Homo sapiens: one gene and its partners. The protein of the gene in region 4 interacts with the protein of the main gene of each other region in a biochemical or structural test. Each region holds a gene or a part of one and is shown on either strand. Other genes may lie near its edges. The genes, in order: PDZK1, ERBIN, SNTG2, ACOT8, MAST2, SHANK1 and DLG3.

The links.
Region 1: the proteins of ACOT8 (region 4) and PDZK1 interact in a test that uses a peptide from one of them, tested with the Homo sapiens proteins (one large-scale study listed by IntAct).
Region 2: the proteins of ACOT8 (region 4) and ERBIN interact in a test that uses a peptide from one of them, tested with the Homo sapiens proteins (one large-scale study listed by IntAct).
Region 3: the proteins of ACOT8 (region 4) and SNTG2 interact in a test that uses a peptide from one of them, tested with the Homo sapiens proteins (one large-scale study listed by IntAct).
Region 5: the proteins of ACOT8 (region 4) and MAST2 interact in a test that uses a peptide from one of them, tested with the Homo sapiens proteins (one large-scale study listed by IntAct).
Region 6: the proteins of ACOT8 (region 4) and SHANK1 interact in a test that uses a peptide from one of them, tested with the Homo sapiens proteins (one large-scale study listed by IntAct).
Region 7: the proteins of ACOT8 (region 4) and DLG3 interact in a test that uses a peptide from one of them, tested with the Homo sapiens proteins (one large-scale study listed by IntAct).

What each region holds. Positions count from the first base shown.
Region 1 is NC_000001.11:145,686,869-145,690,368, forward strand, and holds part of PDZK1 (Na(+)/H(+) exchange regulatory cofactor NHE-RF3), read right to left. Parts: exon of another isoform or gene 3,241-3,500; coding exon of another isoform or gene 3,183-3,240; intron 1,156-3,182; coding exon of another isoform or gene 1,154-1,155; coding exon 944-1,153; intron 1-943. UniProt on the Homo sapiens protein: A scaffold protein that connects plasma membrane proteins and regulatory components, regulating their surface expression in epithelial cells apical domains.
Region 2 is NC_000005.10:66,076,575-66,079,810, forward strand, and holds part of ERBIN (erbin), read left to right. Parts: intron 1-300; coding exon 301-375; intron 376-1,848; coding exon 1,849-1,956; 3' UTR 1,957-3,236. UniProt on the Homo sapiens protein: Acts as an adapter for the receptor ERBB2, in epithelia. By binding the unphosphorylated 'Tyr-1248' of receptor ERBB2, it may contribute to stabilize this unphosphorylated state.
Region 3 is NC_000002.12:1,237,349-1,240,848, forward strand, and holds part of SNTG2 (gamma-2-syntrophin), read left to right. Parts: intron 1-539; coding exon 540-669; intron 670-2,389; coding exon 2,390-2,428; intron 2,429-3,500. UniProt on the Homo sapiens protein: Adapter protein that binds to and probably organizes the subcellular localization of a variety of proteins. May link various receptors to the actin cytoskeleton and the dystrophin glycoprotein complex.
Region 4 is NC_000020.11:45,850,893-45,854,392, reverse strand, and holds part of ACOT8 (acyl-coenzyme A thioesterase 8), read left to right. Parts: intron 1-439; exon of another isoform or gene 440-470; intron 471-3,500. UniProt on the Homo sapiens protein: Catalyzes the hydrolysis of acyl-CoAs into free fatty acids and coenzyme A (CoASH), regulating their respective intracellular levels. Displays no strong substrate specificity with respect to the carboxylic acid moiety of Acyl-CoAs.
Region 5 is NC_000001.11:45,806,612-45,810,111, forward strand, and holds part of MAST2 (microtubule-associated serine/threonine-protein kinase 2), read left to right. Parts: intron 1-3,500. UniProt on the Homo sapiens protein: Appears to link the dystrophin/utrophin network with microtubule filaments via the syntrophins. Phosphorylation of DMD or UTRN may modulate their affinities for associated proteins. Functions in a multi-protein complex in spermatid maturation.
Region 6 is NC_000019.10:50,671,303-50,674,802, reverse strand, and holds part of SHANK1 (SH3 and multiple ankyrin repeat domains protein 1), read left to right. Parts: intron 1-2,688; coding exon 2,689-2,785; intron 2,786-3,500. UniProt on the Homo sapiens protein: Seems to be an adapter protein in the postsynaptic density (PSD) of excitatory synapses that interconnects receptors of the postsynaptic membrane including NMDA-type and metabotropic glutamate receptors via complexes with GKAP/PSD-95 and Homer, respectively, and the actin-based cytoskeleton.
Region 7 is NC_000023.11:70,489,835-70,493,334, reverse strand, and holds part of DLG3 (disks large homolog 3), read right to left. Parts: intron 1,229-3,500; coding exon 1,052-1,228; intron 815-1,051; coding exon 739-814; intron 1-738. UniProt on the Homo sapiens protein: Required for learning most likely through its role in synaptic plasticity following NMDA receptor signaling.

The DNA of each region.
Region 1 (3,500 bases), on a different chromosome or scaffold from region 4:
GCCACCTCCATCCCTGCCCTCCCGAGATCCAGGTGCAGATTAGGCTGAGCTTCTGGCACTGCTGGAATATAGAGTGTGGTTCAACCCCAGCCCAGAGGGTTCTTACAAGACTGGTCCTTTCTAGAGAGGAGCGCTGCCCTAGATTGTAACCATTCCTCCCGTGTGCATGGGGACAGCACAGTGTAAGGAAAAGACCATGCTTTTGGAGTCAGGCAGAATAAGGTAAGGCCAGACTCTCCCATATATCCTCAGCAGGAACATGTTAGCAAGCTAAGATATCTGTACTTAGCTTCCTAATCTGTGAAATTGTAACATATACCTTATGAGGTCATGATGAGGACTTAACAAGATAATGAATATAAAATTGCTGGCCGAGCGTGGTGGCTCATGCCTGTAATCACTGCACTTTGGGAGGCCGAAGCGGGCGGATCACGAGGTCAGGAGATCGAGACCATCCTGGCTAACACGGTGAAACCCCATCTCTACTAAAAATACAAAAAAAAAAAAAAAGCTGGGTGTGGTGGCGGGTGCCTATAGTCCCAGCTACTTGGGAGGCTGAGGCAGGAGAATGGCATGAACCCGGGAGGTAGAGCTTGCAGTGAACCGAGATCGCACCACTGCACTCTAGCCTGGGTGAAAGAGCGAAACTCCATCTCAAAAAAAAAAAAAAAAAAAAAAATACCTAGCACCATTTTTGGTATATAGTGAACATGCAATTCATGTTAGACCTAACGCTATTCAAATCCAAGAGTAATGTGTACAGTTCTTGGTTCCTCATAGGGGACTTGATTGGCCAACACAAGGTACAGCAATAAAGGTGTCCTGCCTTGCCAGTGGCAGCCAGGAAAGAACCAAACTCTACCAACCCCCAAAATTATAATCAGCAGAGAAGATGTGGGGGCTGAAGAGATCCTGGAAGAAAAGCCCCAAATGTCTCATTCACCTGCATATGTTCTTCTTTGTCCACAAAGACACCATTGATCCTAAGAACTCTGTCTCCATCTTGAAGGCCAGCCTTCTCTGCTGGGCTACACTTCTCAACCACCCGGACCAGGTGGCCCTCGGTGTCCTTCTCAATTCGCAGGAAGAAGCCATAGTTTTGCCCTTCTTGCTTGGACAGTTTACATTCTCGGGGGTTGAAGGTGGAGGTCATTTCTGTGATGAAAAAAATAAATTAATAAAACCATGGAAAAGAGAATCTAATTGGAGTGAGAACCCCATCCTCCATCTCCTATAATTCTGTTCTTCCAATCACCAAATCTAGACTGCTTGGGTAGTAATGCTGGGGGCACAGGAGGACACCTTCCAGAACTTGCTAATGATTTCCAAATCTGTTTCCCCAAGGACAACCTTTTTACTAGAGTTTCAGACCCACGTATTTTTTACTGAGTACTGGACACAGATGCTTCCATTTCAGTATCTCCAACCAAACTCCTCTTTGTCCTCTGACCTAAAGAAATTAAGTCCAAATACATGACCCAAAAAATTTATGACAAGCCCACTCTCATTCAAACATTTGAAGAGCTTTTCAAGTTCAAGGAATCGAGGTTAAATCTGTAGACAAGATGGACCCATACCTTGCCTCTTCTATTGGGGAACATTATTACATTCCTATAACCACACGTGGTGAGTGTCATGCTGGGGAAGAATGCAGTGATAAGGGGGAAAATAACAAAGGGTCTTGGGAATAGGGAGCGGGATGGGAAGAACAAAGAACATTTCCTGAAGGAATGACACTTCCAAGAACTGAAGGATTAGTAGAAGCTTGGTGAGGTAGGACAGGACAAGGAAGAGCTTAAACCATTAAAAAAGGCAGGCACAGTGGCTCACCCCTGTATTCCCAGCACTTTGGGAGGCCGAGGCGGGCAGATCACAAGGTCAGGAGTTTGAGACCAGCCTGGCCAATATGGTGAAACCCCAGCTCTACTAAAATTACAAAAATTAGCCAGGCGTGGTGGCAGCCACCTGTTGTCCCAGCTATTCGGGAGGCTGAGGCAGGATAATTGCTTTAACCTGGGAGGTGGAGATTGCAGTGAGCCGAGATCACACTGCTGCACTCCAGCCTGGGCAATAGAGTGAGACTCTGCCTCAAAAAAAAAGGACACCAGGCCTTAGAGCTGGTCCAATATGTTGGAGATGCACTAGAAAAGGCTGTTCTGGCCCCTGAAGTCTCTAGCCACAGCAGAAAAGAGATGCTCGATAGAAAAGGGATTCCAGTGGCTAGGTTGGGGCTCTCCCTCCCAGACGCTTTGTCACCCAGGCTGCAGTGCAGTGGCGCAATCGCAGCTCACTGCAGCCTCGAATTCCTGGGCTTAGGCGATCCTCCCACCTCAGCCTCCTGAATAGCTGGAGCTACAGGCACATATCACTATGCCCTGCTAACTAATTTTTTTAGAGACAGTGTCTTGCTTTGTTGCCCAGGCTGGTCTCAAACTCCTGGGCTCAAGTGATCTTCATGCTTCAGGCTCCCAAAGTGCTGGAATTACAGAATGAGCCCCCATGCCTGGCCTGAAGCAGCTTCTATTTCCATTCATCCTGCCCCTCCTGTTGCCCCATTGCAGGGGCAAGGTCCTGAGCCATAGGAGGAAGACAGGACAAGTGTAAAACCGACAGCTAGGGCTCCGGCACACAGTTATTATTAAGGGTAAGACTTCTGCCAGTGCCCCGACACCTGCTGGCTGAAAGCTTTTTCTTTTATAGGAGAATAAGAACAGGGGCCAGAACAGCAAGAGGCTGATACAGAAGGCAGAAGGCTCACAACAGAGCACTGGAGTCTGCTCTTCACACCACCTGCAAGGCAAGCCCTCAAGTTCCTCTCATCACAGTTCCCTACCTACAAATCAGAATAAACCACCTATCCCTTCCCTCCTGGAGGGACAAGAACGGATGACCACACAGGATATGGGGGAGGGTGAAGAATAGGCCACAAAGTGCTCCAGGCACCCTAGAAGCCATGGCATGGTGATTGAAGATAGCCATCCCTGACCTTCATGCCCACAGAGACGTACAGTACAAATCAGACAGAGAGCCCCCAGCTGCCCAATACCAGGCCTCTCCTGCAGTCTCCGCAAAGTCTGAAGCCCCACGCCACCAGTGGCACGAGTGACTAAGTAGCGAAGAAAGAAGCAAACAAATAGACTCCCCATCGAGCATTGAGGCAAGAAAACAGCAAAGCCACTCACCAGTGGTCAACACCAGCACCTTGGGAGAGCTAGGCAGCTCTGCCTTATCAAAAGCCATGACCAGCTGCCAGGAAAACACCACTCTGGGATGAAAGGAGAAAATATGGCATCACCAGAGTTGAGTCACATCCAGGCACCTGTTTGTGGCCCATTCCAGCTCCCTCACCTTTCACTCCTCTTTCTGCTGATCCCAACCTGCGAGCATCAGTTCAGTTTCAGCTTGAGTTCACATCTATGTCCAAGCTCACCTGTAGATCCCTACACCTTTCCATTTCATAGGGCCAAAAGACCCCAAAAGAAAAAAAATCAGAAAAGAAA
Region 2 (3,236 bases), on a different chromosome or scaffold from region 4:
AGTTAAAACAATTTAACCAAAAACTATGAATGTTTATGATATAATGAAATGATTTTTAACTTTCTTATTGCTTTTTCACACACCTATAAAAGTAATTTTATTACTCTCAAGAGAAATCACTAAAGTCAGAATTACTAGAGGTAAAAATAACTAGTTTGTTACAGTATTACTCAGAGAAGTCAGGGAGAAAACTTGTACCATGATTCAAATATTTGCATGGTGTGGAGGAAAAATTGCTCCTTGGTACTCTGTTATTTATACATACTGTTTTTAGTTAAATAATTTTTTTTGTTGTTAAAGGGTATATTTGTAACAAGGGTACAACCTGAAGGACCAGCATCAAAATTACTGCAGCCAGGTGATAAAATTATTCAGGTAATTAAAATAAATCTTTTTTTTTTTCATTTTATAACACTCTAATGTTTTCACAGTTTAAAATGTTTTCACTTTAACTTTGAAAATTGTGGGTGGGAGGCTGAGGCAGGAGAATGGCGTGAACCCGGGAGGCGGCACTTGCAGCGAGCCGAGATCGCGCCACTGTACTCCAGCCTGGGCGACAGAGCGAGACTCTGTCTCAAAAAAAAAAAAAAAAAAAGTTTGATACATCATAGGATTTTGTTTAAGCTCAGGAATGTTAATTTTTACTAATTTGAGGGGGATTAGAGTACCACTTCTTGGATGTGGGCTATTGTCCTTTCAGAAATGGAGAAGAAAAATTTTAAATCTGCGAAACTCATTTTTTCCTGTCCCCTCCTTTTCTTTGTTCATTCAGCTACTCATTTTACCTAAACACTTACAGTCTTAGAAGGAAGACAAACCTAGGACACAAGTATAGCTCTCATTTTCTACCCCTACTGTCACCGTTCTTAGCTGAGAACTAAAGAACTTAAAAAATAATCCTCAAACCAAAAAAAAAGGGAGAGAGAGACATTAATGTCTAATAGCTGAAAGTACAGATTCTGAAAGCCAGACTGCCTGAGTTTAAATTCTGGTCCCAACACTTTCTAAAAATAAAACTAATTAAAAAAAATTTTTTTTGAATAATTTTAAGCTTAGAAAAAAGCCACAAAAATACTACAACAAACACCAGTATTACATCAATTGGTCACCAGTCGTTCATAATTTGCTACATTGTCTTTATCATTTATTCTCCTCTTTCTTCTCTTTTTCTCCCTCCCTCCCTCTACACACACACACACACACACACACACACACACACATACACACACACACACAGTCACACTCACTCATACAGTTATACACATTTATTTTTCTGAACCATTTGGGTTTCAATTTGTGACTGAGCAAGTTACTTTGCCTCTCCATGCCTGGGCTTTCTCTTCTCTAAAATAAGATAGTGAAAGAATCTTTTTTGAGCATTATGAGAATCAAAGGATCTAATTCATATTACACCCTTAGAATTGTGTGTTTGGTACACAGTAGAACCTCAGTAAATATTAAGCTTAATTGTAAGAAATATGGTGGTCTTGATGTGATGGCTCCAAGACAATGGGAAGAGTAGCCCTTGCCCCCTGCTACGCTACAGTTTGGTCACCTCAGATACACATTAGCATTATACGACACCATGTCTGACATTATTTCTTAAGTAAGTGATTTCTAACATTGGGCTGCTACATAAGAATTGGCTGAGAAGTTGGACAAAATACACATTTTTAGACCCCATCTTCAGAGACTTTATTCCTTGGTTTGGGTAGGGCCTGTGAATCTGTATGTTATTTTAAGTTGCCAAAGTGATTCTTATTTTCTTCCAAGTTTGTGAACTACTTGGCAGAAATGCAAATAAATAACTATAAAATGTTTTTCCTAAAAGCATTTTTCCTCTTCTAGGCTAATGGCTACAGTTTTATAAATATTGAACATGGACAAGCAGTGTCCTTGCTAAAAACTTTCCAGAATACAGTTGAACTCATCATTGTACGAGAAGTTTCCTCATAAGCACTGTGGACAAAAAAAGCGGGGAAGACAGCAAGATTTATTGGAAGATACTTACAGGGGAAATTAATATTTTGACTATTTTTATATATAAAGAAGAACTCAAAAAATTATGTTCAAATTTGTACATTAATGAAATAATGGAACTTGTGGTTAGAGGGAAAGAACCACTGTACAGAATATAAAGGAGACTGTTGAATTCATACCATATAAAACTTGTTAGGTTTTTAAACATAGCAATCAAGGCTACAAAAACAAACCTGTGTTGTTTTTGTATAGATTGTAGGTTTATTTTTGGATTTCATATACATGACTGAACTGTGTGCAAGGCAATAGTTAGCCTTGATTTTAGCCCAGAGACAGATGGCAGAGCTATCTCTCTCATAGCTTTTATGCCCTTATTTTTATTCAACTGGTATTAATGTTTTTCTCCTGAAACTACTTTTTTTGATGTGGGCAAGAGATTTGAAGTGTTGGCTTTTGCTATGTGCATATTGAATTGAAGAGTGAGTAGGTGAAGGTGGTGCTGGTGGGTTCACTTTCCAAGGCCAGACTAAAACAGTTATTTTCTATAAAAATCTGGAAGCAAAGAATGGGGATGGGGAGAGCTACGTGGTAGTATGTTTTTATTAGGAGAATAATGCAATAAAATATGTAATGTCTTTTTTATAAAGCAAAAAAGACAATAATTGCATTTATGAGCTCGGCAGGATCTGTTCTTGTCATAGCCATTGACTATACATTTGCTACTGGTGATTCAGTTTTTAATTTTTTAGTCACAGGAAATTTTTAACTCTACTGTAGATGCATGTCCATGCATTTTCTGTGTTATGGAAATCCACTGATTTTTTTTTTTTTTTCAAATGGTGGTACTTGCAATCTGTTTTATAATTAGTGCTCCATTTAAATCTAATTTATAATTTTTATTTTAAGCAGCAAATGAAACAAAAATGGCCAGTTTTAAGATTGTGTTGCCTGTAACACAAAATGTTACGAAGGTTTAGGAAAGCCTCTTTGATTTTTGTTTGGCCTTGCATTGCCTTGGTAAAGTAAAAGGAAACAGTACACTTGGAGCTAGGAAACCAAAGCAAGCTTTGTGAAACTGGCACAGTGATAGAGAATTGCTGTGGAGAGTTATAGAGCAAAGGGATGGGTCCTTGAGGCCTGCCAGTGTGTAAAGGTGTTCAAATAAAGGGCTGTTTCTACAGGTAACATTAAATGTGAACTCAACACTTCCAGAGTCTTTAAAGGGTTTCTATGTGTATCAGTGTAATAGTGTTTTA
Region 3 (3,500 bases), on a different chromosome or scaffold from region 4:
GGAAGAACTACTGAATTTGAGACGGTTGGTTGTTAATACTTTGCCATGATTGAGTTCTCAGCAAGTGGAGTGTCATGGAGCAGTGGAAGGGGACTATGTTCTCCCAAAGCTCCCCTGTCAATCAGAAGCACACAGGTGGTCCTAGAGAAGGGTGGATGCTGAGTGCAGAGGGTGCTGGGCTGCTCCAGCCTCACCCCATCAGGAGCTTTAAGTGCTCCATCCAAAGGGTCTTCGAAAGAATAACCAGTAAGAATCCTGCAGACAATAACTCCAGAATTTCAGGAGCACTGTTCTTTCCTTGACAAAGTGCTTTTCATGTTTCATCGAATTAGAAGTAGCTCCTGTTACCAAGGGAATTCGGGGTTTGGTCTTGGTCTCAGCGAGCCTGCTGACTGTACTGAGGCGCCTGAGGAAGTGGTGCAGTTGCCCCATGTCCTGGGTCCAGGGTAGAGCCCTGCTGAGCATCAGCCTCGAAACTCACGGAGGCAGGCCCGCTCCCGTCGCTGCGGGGCCTCCTGGACAGCTCTCTCCCTCCCCAGGTGGAATGCGTTCGAGGTGCTCGCCCTGGACGGAGTCAGCTCTGGGATCCTCCGGTTTTACACAGCCCAGGATGGCACCGACTGGCTGCGGGCGGTCTCAGCCAACATCAGGGAGCTGACACTTCAGAACGTGAGCACACGGTGTTTCTGAGTCTCTGCTGATGCTCATTCGTGCATGAAAAATAATGGAGACATCATGTTTCTGATGATTTATGATTAACCCGAAACAGAAAATCATGTACTTGTTTCAATGTGTCAAATCTATGTCTAAAAACATTAAAAATGAAGCCATCAGAATGTTTCCAAATCAAAGAGTAAGGCAATGTCTAACAGCTGAGAATTTCCCATCTGGTTTTGTCTTCCTCCTCCCCTCTGTCTGCCTCTGTCTCTCTCCCTCCCTTCCTCTCTCTTTCTCTCCACACACATATACAGAAATAGTTATATGTCATAATTTTATATTTTACCCAAATGCATTGATACAGTGTGACATTTTGAGTTGGGGAAACCTAATTGAGTTAAAAGTATAATTCTCCCAAACATTATGAAGATTTAGAAAAAGGCATAATTGAGCAAAAACATTACTTCTCAAATTTGTACTGCAGTCCCCCAGAAACGAAAAAGTATTCTGTCCCCTTAAGTGATGTTTGATATTAAAAGTCAACAGGATTTTAAAAATTAAAGAAATGAAAAGAGATGGGGTGGGAACGAAGACTTGATGACACGGGCGTTGCCTGGAGTGATGGGTGCCTGGACTCGGACATGGAGCCGTGGCCGCAGCCCTGGCAACTGTGGCAGGACTGGCCGTGCCTGGAGGCGGCCCTGGACCAGCCTTGCTGCCCTTGCTCCCTCTAAGCTGAGTTGCCCTGTAATTGCACTTCGATCCCTGCTCTGTTCCTTCGCAGCCTGGAGGCTGCAGAGGCTGGGTCCAGCTTGCAGACTGGCCAGGCGTGGCCCACCCTGCGGCCCTGCAGATGCACCCGCCCTGCCCCTGCCCTGCCCACCACCTCACGTCTCCCTTGCAACCTCCCTTCTTCCTGTGGCTGCAAAACAGAAGTTAACCTAACACTGGGGGAAGCAGCAATGTGTGACATTTCTCCTGTGAAGACCTCAGGGGCTTCCTTTCTGCAAGCAGAGAAGGAAGTACCAGGACCTTCCTAACATTGTAGTTTTCAAACGCAACACTTTAAATTCCAAAGTTATCTCAATAAATAGGGAAGAAAGGATGGTGCTTGACTTATATTTGCAGAAATGTTTGTGACGAGGAGCGCCCTTCAGTTCTGTCATTTCACAAATCAGCCCTCATAGGCAGGGCAGAGAAGTCAGACACCCCAATATTTCAGAACAGAAATGTGGACTCTGAGCTGCCTCCCGGCTGTGTGGCTGTGGGCTGTGGGAACATTATGATTCTGCACCTCCACTTCCTCGGTGAAATTTTGGAAAACAACATCTACCTCCATAGGTCATTGGGAGAACTAAATAAAAGAAAGAATATCAACTGTGATCACCGTAATTACCATCACAGTAATACTGACTCTCACAAGGTTATGTAGAGCAGAAATCATTTCCTCACTTTTCTCAGATATTGGAATTTAAGCACCTGCTCTTGAAGTGTAACTTCACTTACATAAATGCTGATATTTGAAAAAGAGGAATTGAAGCCTGCTAGTAAAGTTGTTTTCTACTGCTGCCATGTTTGTATTGACTCTGGCTAGGTCTTCAGATAGGAAATATGTCATTAAAGAGGCCTGTTTCCCAGGACAGAGCGTGGCTGATGACTTCCAGCTGTCACTCAGGTGAGCCATCCTGGTGTTGGTGGCTGTGGCCCTGACTCTTCTGCCTTCTCTCCACAGATGAAGATGGCGAACAAATGCTGCTCTCCTTCCGACCAGGTAGGGTTTGTATTTTCTGCTTCATGATGTAACACATCAGGTAGGGTTTGTATTTTCTGATTCATGATGTAACACATCTCGAAAAGCAGTCTCTGGTTTTTTGAAATTTGATTTGAAAATGTTGATAGGAAAACATTAGCACATTTCAGACTGCATTTGGTGGTCTCTGCCCTGCCTGTTAATTCTATAAAACTGCTCTTTCTGTGGGAATAGCATAGGTCATTCTGATCTCCTGTGTATAGATTATTTCTCTATTGGCAGTTATGTTTTGTAAAGAATCGTGATTTAAATGATGATTTAGATATGATTGTTTAAACTGAGAAGGGCTTTGAGATGACACACCTGTGTAATTTGAAATTTTAAGCATTATATTATTTTCTTAAATAAAATCCTTACTAGGAAAGCTTCATTCTCAGGAGGGCTTTGGCCCAGTGGGTGTTATTGCCAGTGGGTAGGATCCTGTCATCCCCAAATCCAGGCAGTTTGTTCACCTGGAGCCCAGAGCCCTTAACGTTGTCCTGGATTCAGGATAGCTACCTTTGTAGCCACCCTCAGGCCTGATTTTCTGCTCACTTCCCACGTCTATGAGTACTTAGGAAAACTCTATGGTAATCAAGCTGTTTCAATATCAGCCAAATCAGTTTTTAAGCCACTGTGTTATTCTTCTGTTTCCTTTATAATAAACTTATGATTTAACTTGTAATGTAAGGGAGTATGTTATTTATAGTTCATTCATTTTCTGGTTACATCTCTTAGGGGCGTAAGGAAGCATGCATCATAGCCTCAAGTTAAGAAAACTGAGAAAAACATGTTCGCTTTGCTTTAAATAGCGCACAAAAGACTTTAAATAGTGCTTAGCAAGAATATTTGAATTCACGATGGAGGACTTGAGAAGAGCAGGTCCTCTGCCTATGAAATATTTACTAAAACAATGGGAAAATAGGGCTGTGTTTTAAATTAAACCTCTCTAGTCAACATTTCTACATTAGAAAAGAAACACTAAGAATAAATGGTTCTTCTAACTTTTATCTCTTTTAATATTATTCTAAAATTACCATCAACTATTTTTGTT
Region 4 (3,500 bases):
TAAAAATATAAAAAAATTAGCCAGGTGTGGTGGTGGGTGCCTGTAGTCCCAGCTACTCGGGAGGCTGAGGCAGGAGAATGGTGTGAACCCGGAAGGCGGAGCTTGCAGTGAGCCAAGATCGTGCCACTGCACTCCAGCCTGGGCGAGCACTCCAGCCTGGGCAACAGAGCGAGACTCTGTCTCAAAAACAAAAAACCTATGTGTGGTGGCTCATGCCTATAATCCCCGCACATTGGGAGGCCAATGCGGAGAATTGTTGGAACCCAGGAATTCAAGACCAGCCAGGGCAATAAATCGAGACCTTGTCTCTACAAAAAAATAAATAAAAGGAAAATAAAAGCAAAACCTATGCTAAAAAACAAACAAAAAAAACCCTCACTGTTTTCTTTCCTTCCCTGTTACCCCCAGAGCAGATGCCCTCATGTGTTCTGCGTAGATCCCCAGCTGAGAAGAGTTTGTGGACCTTTACAGTATGTGATTTGTATTAAGAAAACCATGGGGTTTCCCCCTTCATTTTGTAAATATGAAAGTTATCCCTGTAATGGTAAATACACTTTTTCATACTGTCCCGTGTCTCTTACTCCTCATCCCTGAGGAGTATTGATTGGCCCCCCTCTTCTCGGCCCCCAGTCACTGCTATAAAGTATTTGAATACTTACCTTGGGCTCAGCCAGGTTCTTATCTTTATGCTAGTTGGGAGTAAATATGTGCTTTGTTTCTTTAATTTGTTTGTAAGTACCAGCCTTTTGATATTGTAATCCTTCCAGCCTAGTGAAATACCTGGCTGTTTTCTTTTGTGTGGGTGGGGGCATTACTTGAACTCTGAATCTCTTCATCCTGTGATGGAAGAATTCAATGAGTCTTTGCCAGTAAAGTATCTAGTGCAGGGCTTGGCATAATCTAGTTTTCCATAAATATTATTAGTTTTTGATGATTAACTTATGGGAATAATTAAAATTTGCATGATACAGAGCATAGTTGTGTGCATTATCTTGTTTAGTCTTCATAAGTAAACATGGGTGGCAGGCATTCCTGCCATCATTCTTACCTAAGGAAACTGGGACCTGAAGAGGTTTGGAACCAGCTCCCACAGTGCCCAAGGAGGCAGAGCCAGGATTTGAACCTGGTTTATGTGTCTTTGAGTGCCAAACTCTTTCCTGCTTCTTTGCTTCGCTCTTGGGCAATAATTCTAAACAATGAGAGAGCTGCCAGGGTACCCATCCCAGGTTCTGGGGAAAAGATCCTCTTTCTTGGAAAGTCTTCATCCAGGAGCAGCGTGAAATGAGCTGTGTCCAAGCCACCATTTCAAAATAAATAATTATTTGGCCGGGCGTGGTGGCTCATGCCTGTAATCCTAGCACTTTGGGAAGCCGAGGCGGGCGGATCACCTGAGCTCAGGAGTTCGAGACCAGCCTGGGCAACATGGTGAAACCCAGTCTCTACTAAAATACTAAAAATTAGCCAGGCATGGCGGCATGTGCCTGTAGTCCCAGCTACTCAGGAGGCTGAGGTAGGAGAATTGCTTGAACTCAGGAGGCGGAGGTTGCAGTGAGCTGAGATCATGCTACTGTACTCCAGCCTGGGCGACAGAGCGAGACTCTTGTCTCCATCAAAAATAAATAAATAAATAAAAATAATTATTTGTGCCCTTGCTTGTGTCTTGAAAGGCTGCAAGATAGCTAAAATAATTGGTAGTTATTATGGGAATATTAAAAGTCAAAGGACATTAGGCCAGTAGTAATGGGATTTGGGAGAAGCGATCATGTCAAAAAATTTGGCTAAGCCATATTGTTGCAGTTTCATACAAGGTTTAGTTCTGAGCTTCCTGGCTGCAAGGCAAAAAGGGGAGAGCTCTTATCTGTTTGTGGTGTGACTCTGCCAGCTATATCAGATATTAAAACCAATGCTGTTTTTTGGCTGGGCATGTGGCTTATGCCTGTAATCCCAGGACTTTGGGAGGCCGAGGCGGGCAGATCGGCTGAGGTCAAGAGTTCGAGACCAGCCTGGACAATGTGGCGAAACTCCATCTCTACTAAAAAAAAAAAACACACACAAAAATTAGCCAGGTGTGGTGGTGCACACCTGTAGTCCTAGCTACTCAGGAGGCTGAGTCAGGAGAATCGCTTGAACCCTGGAGGTGGAGGTTGCAGTGAGCTGAGATCGTGCTACTGTACTCCAGCCTGGGTGACAGAGCAAGACTCCATCTAAAAAAAAAAAGGAAAATTAGCTGGGCGTGGTGACCTTAGCCCGTGATCCCAGCTACTCGGGAGGCTGAGGCTGAGGCTGAGGCAAGGAGAATTGCTTGAACCCGGCGGCTGGAGGTCGCAGTGAGCTAAAACTGCGCCACTGCACTCCCACCTGGGCGACAGATCGAGACTCCATCTCAAAAAAACAAAACAAAAAAGAGATGTTTCAATTACATTTTAAAAATAAAAGATGTTATGGGGGAGGGGGAGGGTTGGTCCTTGGCCATTTATCAAATCAGTTCTTTTTCTAAAAGCCCAGGAAAGAATGTGAATTAGTTGGGTTTTTGTTTTGTTTTTAGTTTTTCTCTACAGAGGTAAATTTAGAGCTTGAAGAATTCAGAACAAGGTCAGCAAACATTCTAGAAAGGGCCAGATAGTAAACATTTTAGGTTTTGCCAGTGAAAGCAACTATAGACAATATGTAAACAAATTAGCATGACTTTATTACAAAAAAATTGTATTTTAAGGCAACAGTTTCCTCATCTGTACAATGGGGGTAAGAGTGGCTCTACATAGTTATTGTGAGACCAACATGAGAAAACATACCCTCCTGTCCAATGCTGTCAGGCACCCTGCATCACTCCATAATCATTAACTCCCTTCAATATGCCTCAGGGCCTACCTGCTCTGTTCCAATAACAATTTTCAAGAATAGGGCTGGAACTCATTCACACTGAAAGGTAGACCAGAGTACTGAAGTTTCTGTGATCCTCCTCAGGAATCTGCACTTTAGCTTACCTGCAGACCAAGGATTGGATTAGAGGTTTTTTTTTGTTTTTTCCCCCCAAGTTTGGTGGTAGGGAGGAAGACTTCATTCCCAGTGTCTGAAAGCAGACTGCACAAGTAACTTTGTCTAGTGTCTGGACTCTTGGTAAGCCCTTCTCAAATGCCTTTAACCTTGAGGAGCTCGCACTCTGATAGAAGTGCTGCTGGTGGCAGTGCCTGATAACAGAGAGCTGAGCAAGCCAGTTGACCTCAGACAGTGATGTTTATTGCTGTTGATTGAGCCCTGGTGCCTGGTTGACTCCCCATTTGGATCAGAGTGAAGGAAGCAACACTTCTCTAGACCTGCTTCTTTCATCTGAAGGTTGAAAGTCATCCCCAAGATGTCTCATGGCCCAGATGTCAGGGTTCCTCAAGGTCAGCCTGACTCAGACAAAGTGAGAACTTCAGGGAAACCAGGGAAGTTCTCTTCCTCTCCAAATCTTCCCTCACCTGCTTGTTGTTGGCTGCCTTATCCCTGGCCAGTGCCTT
Region 5 (3,500 bases), on a different chromosome or scaffold from region 4:
CTCTCGCCCAGGCTGGAGTGCAGCGGCACATTCTCAGCTCACTGCAACCTCTGCCTCCCGGATTCAAGCGATTCTCTTGCCTCAGCCTCCCGAGTAGCTGGGATTACAGGCATGCACCACCATGCCTGGCTAATTCTCTATTTTTAGTGGAGATGGGGTTTCACCATGTTGGCCAGGCTAGTCACGAGCTCCTAACCTCAGATGATCTGCCCGCCTTGGCCTCCCAAAGTGCTGGGATTACAGGCGTGAACTACCACGGCCTAATTTTTTATTTTTTGTAGAGGTGGTATCTTACCATGTTGCTCAGGCTAGCCTCGAACTCCTGGGCTCAAGTGATTCTCCCACCTTGACCTCCCAAAGTGCTGGGATTATGGGCATGAGTGCCCAGTTTGTTTTTCAAATTGAAATATAATTCATGGCTACTTGTGAAAAGTTTTCATTGTGAAATAGTTACAGAGAGAAATATGTAAAAGTCCTGGGAACCTTTAAATTACTAAATCTGATAGTCTTTTCCTCATCTTGTCTGACCTCTGTGAACTATTTGTCACTGTTGACTGTGTGTTCCTTGTTGACATTTTTTTCTTTTTTAATATTATAATATCCATTCTGTTACTGCTTCTCTAACTGCTCTCTTGTGTGTCTTTGTCTTGTGTTTTCTCTTCCTGTTCCTGAAATGTTCCTTGAGGACATGTCCTCTGTCCTTAGCTTGATCCTTTATTGTGCTCTATTTAGCAGGCTCATTCTGTTTGTAGATGTTGAGGATGTAGAACAAGGGTCTGCAGTCCTCTTTATTTATGGCATTGTGTCACAGAACATCCTTGTAAAGTGAGCTGAGTCTCTTTAGGTGTGACCTCTTTCCTTAGCTCTACATTTCCATTTTTGTGCTTAACATTTCCACCGTAGACTCATCATTTGTGTTCTTAACATTTGTGATTTTTTTTTTTTTTTGAGACAGGGTCTCACTTTGTTGCCCAGGCTGGAGTGCAGTGGTGGGACCTCAGCTCACTGCAACCTTCGCCTCCCAGGCTCAAGTGATTCTCCAGCTTCAGCCTCCCCAGTAGCTGGGATTGCAGGCGTCCGCCACCACGCCTGGCTAATTTTTGTATTTTTAGTAGAGACGGGGTTTCACCATGTTGGCCAGGCTGATCTCGAACTCCTGACCTCAGGTGATCCACCCACCTCGGCCTCCCAAAGTGCTGGGATTACAGGTGTGAGCCACTGTGCCCGGCCTAACATTTGTGAGTTTTATAATTTGATAGTGACCTTGAAAGTTCATAATTTGTAATAATTTATGATTTTAAAAAGGCCAAAATTTTCATTGTATGTGTCGAGACTGGTTGAATTCTATTTATTTGGGTAGTAAGAGCCCAGCTGATCAGCAAGCATCTACATCTCACACGTAACTTTTTTTTCCCTTTCTCATGACATGGAACAGTGCTTGTTACAGTTTTTATTATACTAGTATTTAAGAATACGTTCTAATCAGGATGTAGGACTTGGATCTCCAGAAGGTCAGTGGTTTACTGTATCATGAAAATAGAATAATTTCTGTGTTGAAATGTGCTTCTCTCTGTATCTTTCCTTTTTGTCATCCAACATGAAATTATATCCATGGCTTTTTTTGTTTGTTTTATTTTGAGATGGAGTCTTGCTCTGTCGCCCAGGCTGGAGTGCAGTGGCGCGATCTCGGCTTATTGTAACCTCTGCCTCCCAGGTTCAAGCGTTTCTCCTGTCTCAGCCTCCTGAGTAGCGCATGCCTGGCTAATTTTTTGTATTTAGTAGAGATGGGGTTTCACTGTGTTGCCCAGGCTGGTCTCGAACTCCTGAGCTCAGGCAATCCACCCGCCTTGGCCTCCCAAAGTATTAGGATTACAGGCGTGAGCCACCGTGCCTGGCCCACATCTGTAGTCTTTTACTTCTTCTCCTTTGACTCCCTTAGCCAGTCTGGCATTAGGTTCTCTCGATTCTGCCTTCATGAAATCTTTCAAACCATTATTCCCATTGTCACTACCTTAATTTCATATTTATAAACTTTAGTCTTGGTTGTTGCAGTATCTTAACTGTATTTACTCAGTCTTCAGTCTCTTAACCTCTAATATATTTCACGTTCTATTAACAAAAGATTGGAACTCATTGCCTCCCTGGCTAATGGTAAGTGCTTTATAAATACTCGTTAAATGTTCATTTCATTTCTCCTTATTCATATACCTTCATTAGCTTCTTATTACCCATAGAATTAAGCCTGAAGACCTTGGCATTCAAGATCTACTTGATACTTAGCACTTTTTGTTAGAAGAGTCAGTTAGTTGCCACTTCTCTTGGTTCCTTAGGACCGTCTGCTTTTCTCGATCATGGCATACAATATTAAAATTATCTTGTTTCTCTCATTAGTAAGTTCTTTGAGAGTCAGACTGTTCCATTTACTTCTGTATACCTAGGGCTTAGTATAGTACTTGAAACATAGTTATTTGTGTATTTATTAGAAACATAGATATTTGCTCAATGTCCTAATTGATTGTAAGTCAGTCAAATGAATTCCTCTGAGGCTGTCTTAATCATCATGGTATCTTCAGCCTCTAGTATTTTAACTGGTATGTAATAGACATTCAGTAAGTAATTGTTTATTGTTAGGCACTTTGATATACTTTAATTAGTCATCAGTTTGAGAAGCTCTTTATTCTCTGCTTCCGCATATTAAAATTCTACTCAGTTTTCCAGGCCTAACTCAAATGCCACAGAAACTTCTGTGAGGCCAGGTGTGGTGGCTCATACTTGTAATCCCAGCACTTTGGGAGGTTGAGCAGGCGGGTTGCTTGAGCTCAGGAGTTTGAGACCAGACTGAGCAACATGGTGAAACCCCATCTCTACAAAAAATACAAAAATTAGTCGGGGTTGGTGGTGCGCGCCTGTGGGCCCAGCTACTTGGGAGGCTGAGGTGGGACCCCTGGAAGTTGAGGCTGCAGTGAGCCAAGGTTGTACCACTGCACTCCAGTCTGGGTGACAGAATGAGACCGTGTCTCGTAAAGAAAGCAAAAAACAAACAAACAAAAAACAAAAACAAAACCACACACCCAAAAAGAAACTCTTCTGCAAAGTTGTTTTTCCACATGGGATCCTAGGAGGATCCTTAATTGGGCTTCAGGAAATCTGTGAATGTCCTGAAATTCCAGTTCTCAAAATTCTGTGGTTTAAAAGTGAAAGCTTAGGTTCCAAGAGATCAAATGCAAAAATGACTGGAAAGCACATAATAAGTAGGTGCTTAATAAGTAGTCTTATCTCATTTTGTTTCTGTAACATATTGTTTGATCCATTCCTGGTCATATAAAGTAGATGCTGAATAAATATTTGCTGAATGAAAGGATGAATCAGTGTTTTAGCACTTTCAACTTTCTGTGTTCATTTGTATTTCATTTTTGCTTTTAAGTTGCATGTTATTGAAGGTAAGAACTATGTCATCATTTTGTCTAACAATGCAGAGCTAAAGGCTTTGCTCACAATAG
Region 6 (3,500 bases), on a different chromosome or scaffold from region 4:
GGCATGAGCCACCGTGCCCAGCAATTTTTGTAATTTTTATTTTTGTAGAGACAGAGTCTCCCTATGCTGCCCAGGCTGGTCTCAAATTCCTGGGGTCAAGCGATCCTCCCTAATGTTGAGATTTCAGGCATGAGCCACCACGTTGGCCTGAAATGTACAGTTGAATGGCTAGTGGCTGCTCTAGGGGGGCACTGCAGGCCTAAAGGAAGCGGGTAGCCGGGCCAGGGTGGAGGGCTAAGATAACAGAGCTTTCCCAAGCAGAGCCCAGAGCCCAGGGAAAGGATGCTCCATGCAGAGTCTCGGAAGTGAGAAGCGAGGGAACTGGGAATGGTTGTGAATGGCTGGAGGAAAGAGGCAGGAGGGGGTATAGTGGGAAGTGCAGGAAGTAAGGGTTCATCCCAAAGGTGCGAACTTCATTCCGAGAGGGCTCCCTTTCTCTGCACTTCTGGTCTCAAAGATGGAGAAGGGAGACACATGGGGTGACCTGGCAGAAGCTGGGGAGTCAGGGCCCCGAAGTGCCTGACCTTGGCTGATTCTCCCTGTTACTCATCTAACACTTGCTTGTAGAACAGCAGGCCCTATGCGGGGACCGGGGACTCAGTAGGAAAGGAGACTGATAAAGTCACTACCCTACCCTCAGGCAGGTTTCATAATGACTTCCATGAACCTTAGGCACTTTTGCCCTTCTGCATTAAAAAAAAAAAAAATAGGCCAACACGGTGGCTCATGCCTGTAATCTGAGAACTTTTGGGGAGGCCAAAGTGGGAGGATCGCTGGAGCCCAGGAATTTGAGATGAGCCTGGGCAACATAGCAAGAACTCGCCTCTGCAAAAAAATTTAAAAATTAACTGGATGTGATTGTGCCTGCCTATAGTCCCAGCTACTCAGAAGGTTGGGGTTGGGATCGCTTGGGCCCGGGAGGCCAAGGCTGCAGTGAGCCGTGTTAACGCCACTGCACTCCAGCCCTGTCTCAAAAAAAAAAAAAAAAGTTTAAATTTTATGACTTTGTTGCTGCAAAGACCGATATTATCCAGGGTACAATTTTCTCTTTTCTTTTTTTCTTTCACTTCTACTTTGAAAAGAAATGAAAACACTTCCCCTAAAAGCATCATGGGCCCTAGACACTGTAGGTGCGATGCCTGGGATACATCAGCCCCGCCTTCAGGGAGTTTCTAGGCTAGTGGAGGAAACAGACAGCAAGTAAACAAGATGGTTTCTGGGGAAGAGAGATGCTGTGAAGAAAATGGGACAGAGGGAAGTGCAGTCTGGGTAGGGGGCCGGGGAAGGTCTCGCCGAGGAGAACTTCGCGCTGAAAAGGAACTGTGACAATAAGAGGGAAAGCTGTTGCCGAGAGAACCAGGGCTCGCAGGTGTTCTCCAATGAGGGTAGACCTGGGGCTGACAGAGGAGAAGGAAGAGGTGGGGGTGGAGGTGGACCAAGGGAGCAAGTGGGAAATGGGGGCAGGGCTGGGTCCCGCCTGCAGGACCTGTCTTCGTGTGGGCTTCCCTAGAACGGGAGCCGGAGGTGGGGATTCCTGTACCAAGGGTTTGCTACGGGGGAACCTTCAGGGAGTGTGGGAGACTGGCTGGGGTTGTGGAAGGAAGTCAAGCAGACACGGTTCACGCTGGAGTGGGAACCCATGGGGTCAGGCTGGGCACCCCGGCTTTAGTGCTGCCTCGGGCCTCCGTATCCGTCCATCGTGGGCTGTGGGCTGCTCCAGGAAGCAGGGACACATAACGGACTGGGCGAGTCCAGGACTCTGAAGGAGGGTGATTCTTAAGGGCTGCAGGCAGGTGACCCTCCCAGCAGTGGGTGAGGGATGGGATGCTGCATCCAGGGGGAGGGCAGCTGCAGGGGCACCAGCAGTGCCTGCCATAGAGGGTCTTGTAGACCAGAGTTGGGAGTTTGGTCCCCTCTGATCTCCTCCTAACTGACATGGGATTTCAAGCAGGGGCAATAGCATGCTTTTTGAAAGATGCCTCTGACTCTTGTGTGGAAAACAGACTGGAACAGGGTGGGGGATCAAGGATGGCAGCAGGGAGATGAGGGAAGAGGCTGCTCCATCCCGGAGAACACTGGTGGGGACCTGGATGTGGGCAGTGGCTGGAGGAAGGAAGCAGATCAAGAGTCGATGGAAAATCTGCTTTCTTCTCCTTTCTTTCTCCTTCCTGCCCAGACTTGAGGCTTTTCATTCCCGCAGAATTCCCTTTCGCCTTCTTTTCTTTTTTTTTTTTTTTTTTTTTTTTTGAGACAGAGTCTGGCTCTGTCGCCCAGGCTGGAGTGCAGTGGTGTGATCTTGGCTCACTGTAGCCTCCACCTCTCCACCTCATGGGTTCAAGTGATTCTCAAGCCTCAGCCTCCCGAGTAGCTGGGATTACAGGCGCCTGCCACCATGCCTGGCTAATTTTTGTATTTTTAGTAGAGAGACGAGGTTTTGCCATGTTGGCCAGGCTGGTCTTGAACTCCTGACCTCAGGTGATCCTCCTGCCTCAGCCTCCCAAAGTGCTGGGATTACAGGCGTGAGCCACGTTGCCCGGCCTCCTTCCACCGTCTTCACACTGCTCTCCCTTACGGCAGGGGCTTAGGGAAGGAATGGGGGCAGCCGTATAGTGAAGCCACAAGCCTTTCTGCGCTGACTGATCTCTCTCTATCTTTTCTCTCTCTCCCCCTCTGACTGCCGCTCCAAAGTCGAGCTTCGATCCCCACCACCGTGCCCAGCCAAGTTACGAGCGTCCTTCTTTCCTGCCTCCAGGACCTGGGTTGATGCTCCGGCAAAAATCTATCGGTATGCCACCCAGAAGAAGAGATGTGGGGGCTGGGGGAGGCCAGGAACGTGACAGTTCAGGAAAAGCAAGCAGACTTGGAAATGTTCTGTGCTCCCAGAGAGACCATAGTTTCATCAAATTGGGTTAAGAGTTCAGGCTTTGGAAATGGGTGAACTTGGCCATGAATCCTGGCTCCCCTCCTTCCCAGCTGTGTGAACTGGGGCAGGTGGCTTGACTTCTCTGGGCCTCTGGCTCTACATCTGGAGAATGGGGATGCAGTGAGCTAAAGCCCCCGCTACAGCTTTCTGGTTGTTTCTCTTATACCCGATTCCATCCATTCATTCATTTTACAAGTGTTTACCAAGCGCTCCCCACATGCCAGGAATTGTTCTAGAATGGGGATACGTCAGCGAATAAAACAGACTAAAGGTTCCTGCCCTCATGGGCTTGCCTTATAGCAGGGGAAGACAGATAATGGATTATAAGGAAAATAAGCAAGAAAATTATCTAGTATGTTAGCAGTTGTACGTGCTATGGAAAACAAAAAAAAGAGTGGGCCGGGCGCAGCGGCTCACGCCTGTAATCCCAGCACTTTGGGAGGCCGAGGCAGGCAGATCACAAGGTCAGGAGATCGAGACCATCCTGGTTAACATGGTAAAATCCCATCTCTACTAAAAATACAAAAAATTAGCCGGGTGTGGTGGCGGGCACCTGTAGTCCCAGCTACTCAGGAGG
Region 7 (3,500 bases), on a different chromosome or scaffold from region 4:
AAAAAAAACAGAACAATGGATTTTAAAGCATGCAAGAAAAACTAAAATGGAGACAACGGTGAGCTAAATAAAAGACCATCTCTCACAAATGGAGTCTATGAGATTAAATGAAAGTTGATGTAAGAGGAAAATTATGTTTACAAGAAAATGTTGTAGGGATGTTAGAAGTTTCTACATAATCCAGACACTCATAACACTCACTGGTACTTCCTAAAGAACAAAGGTCACTGTAGCCTCCTGGACACATGCCCTAAGGTACCACTGATATACACATCTACTCCACGTCTCTCTTCCCTCTACTGCTCCAGAAGTTCTTTGGCCTGTGAAGCTCATAGAAAAAAAGGGGTGAATGGAGAACCCGCCTGCCTCAGGTGGTCTGAAGGGAGGTGGGAGCTCTGGAGCTGGGCTTCTTGGCCGGATGCTCTGACAGGATCTATAGCCAGGGAGACACCCACGAGTGGTTTCATTTTCCCCAAGCAAGTCAGCCTTCCAGACAGTCCAACTCTAACACATCTTCAAGAGCCGGTACCCAGGGGAAAGGAGCACAGACTGGCTGTGAACTTTAAGAGCTCCCTCTCTGCTTTCTGAAAAGCAGTCAATGTTCTGATAGGACAGAGCCAGCCCCCTGAAAAAGAGATTTTCTTTTGTGTTCCCCAGTTCTCCTACACATCAGACTAAACTCCAGGCTTCTCAACCCTCTTTACCTACTGGCTGATTTCCTTGGGGATCCCCACTTACCCTGTTAGACTCAATCATCCCCGTCCTGGCATGGAACTTCACAGTTTTCAATCGAGCTCTTTCTTTCTTTTCCACCCTGTTTTGGAATCAGAAAGAAGTCCTGTTACTGCCAGTAAATGGTCTCAGCAGTGGGTTGCAGCAGGCACAGCAGCCATTTTTTTGGCTCACTGAGTAAAAACCATGTTGAGTACCGACTCTACCAAAAAGGAATCAAGGCACAAACGTTGCTCTCAAGCAACTTCTAATAGGAAAACAAGAAAGAAATACCAGCAAGAGGGCAGGAAAGGCCTTGCTCATGATCATGACGACTCACCTCTTCTTACTGGGGATCACACCGATCTGCTCACTTTCTCCGTGTGGGGTCACCAGCCTTGCCTGCCACCACTCATCATCAGAGGCATTAATGACATGCAGAATGTCACCATAAGAGAAGCTGAGCCCCTGGCTTGGCAGGCAGCTGTCCCGAGTCCGATCATAATCAAACAGGGCCCTGAAAGGCACAGTGAAAGATGAAGTGATCATCCAACCCTAAATGCCAAGACACTGGCACCTTGAAAAGATGGAAGGCCAACCCAAACAGCACAGACATAGCAGCCTCACAGTATACTAGAAGGATGTCTCCAGGAGACCACATCCTTCTTTCTGAGCCAAAGTGGTAAATATGCACCCGCTTTCAAAGAAACATCTCATTCTCCCAATAAGAAGCATAAGAGAAAATATTTTACAAACCCCATCTCCTCTTGGCTTCTGGATGCAAGATAAAAGTCCAAAGTAGAACTCGCTCAATAGCCCTCTCCCTCACCCACATCCTAGGAAACTAGCTCTAGCAGGGCGCTTTCTCAGTTCACAAACATATCTTCAAAAAGTAGCTAAAGAGAGGACAAAAAATGTTAACTACAATCCCAAACAATGACTGGTAAACACTCCTGAAGCACTAAAGAAAGGGCCCTATGTCCTCGGGCAGCCAAAGAAAAAGCACAGAATGGTAGGGTTGAAAAGACCAATGGGACCATAGAAGTCACCTAGTGCGGTCTCTTTCTCTTACATATGGGGAAACAGAGGTTCAGGGAGGAAAAAATAGTTTGACCTAGGTCATACATCTAACCAACCTGGGACAAAACCCAGGTCTTCTGACAAGACATGCTGTTGTGACATGCTATAAATGATGCAGAGTAAAGAAATAAAAGGGAAGGTGGGAGAAGGTGGGGAGGGAGCTATACAATCCAGGCTTATGGAAAAGGACACCAGCTTGGCTGATGCTAGAAGTCCTAGGAAATGGTATTGGAAATAAAGGTCTGAAGCAAATTTTGGAAGCCCTTGAATAGACAAGATCTAGTGGCCCCTGGAAATCTGAGAGGAGTGACACATCAAAAGAGCCTTAGGAGGTCGGGCGCAGAGGCTCACGCCTGTAATCCCAGCACTTTGGGAGGCTGAGGCGGGTGGATCACCTGAGGTCAGGAGTTCAAGAGCAGCCTGGCCAATATGGTGAAACCCCATCTCTACTAAAACTACAAAAATTAGCTGGGTGTGATGTTGCATGCCTGCAGTCCCAGCTACTCGGGAGGCTGAGGCAGGAGAATCACTTGAACTTGAGAGGTGGAGGTTACAGTGAGCCAAGATTACGACACTGCACCCCAGCCTAAGCGACAGAGCAAGACTCTGTCTCAAAAAAAAAAAGCCAAAAAAAAAGTTTCTACTTTTCACATCCAGTGGAACCTGTCTTCATATGGAGTCACCACAAATGGGTGATTTCAGTGAGAAGTTTGTATTTTTCTACCTGCAATCTAGGCTGTCTTCTTCATATTCTCTGTTAATAAGGTGTTTTCACACCTTTGCACACACAGCCCAAAATCTAGTTCCAAGACTTTGACTTCTACCTGCAATACTGTGGCCTTTGGCTCAGTTGGAAGCTGCAAGTAAAACACACTATCTTACCATATGCAAGCCCAAATGAGATAGGATGTAGTAAAACCATGAAGAGTGAAATACTCACCTACTGCTTACAGCTCTTGAAACAGAGTTCTTAAAAATCAGCGTCAGATGATTTGAAAATGAAAATACCCAAACTCTAACAAAAAGCCCTTTTTTCCCCTCAATTTACACACTCAAAGCAGTAAGGAGAATGGCAGAGGCAGCAGACAAGGAGGTGCTGTCCGAGAGGTGCATTCCGGGCTATGTGTGACAGAATCAAAACTGAATGCATTCTCACTGCCTGAGTCCTGCATTTCCTAAAGCAAGGAAGACATTCTGTCAGCCACTCCTACTAAGAAGAGCATCATGAAGCAACCTCATTCTCAGTGACAATGAGAAACACTGGATGTCATTATGGGTTTCAAAGATTAGAACAAATATAGTAAGGAAAAGAACAGAACTTGAATTAAGCACAAATTAGTTTGGTGAGAGAAGGAAGGAAGATGTTAAAATGAATTTAGGAGGCCGGGCGCGGTGGCTCACGTCTGTAATCCTAACAATTTGGGAGGCTGAGGCAGGCAGATCACTTGAGGTCAGGAGTTCGAGACCAGCCTGGCCAACATGGCAAAACCCCGTCTCTGCTAAAAATACAAAAATTGGCCGGGCATGGTAGCGGGCACCTGTAATTTCAGCTACTCGGGAGGCTGAGGCAGGAGAATTGCTTCAACCTGGGAGGCAGAGGTTGCAGTGAGCCGAGATTGCGCCACTGCACTCCAGCCTGGGTGACAGAGCGAGACTCTGTCTAAAAAATAAATAATAAATAAATAAAATAAAATGAATTAGGGGAGTTA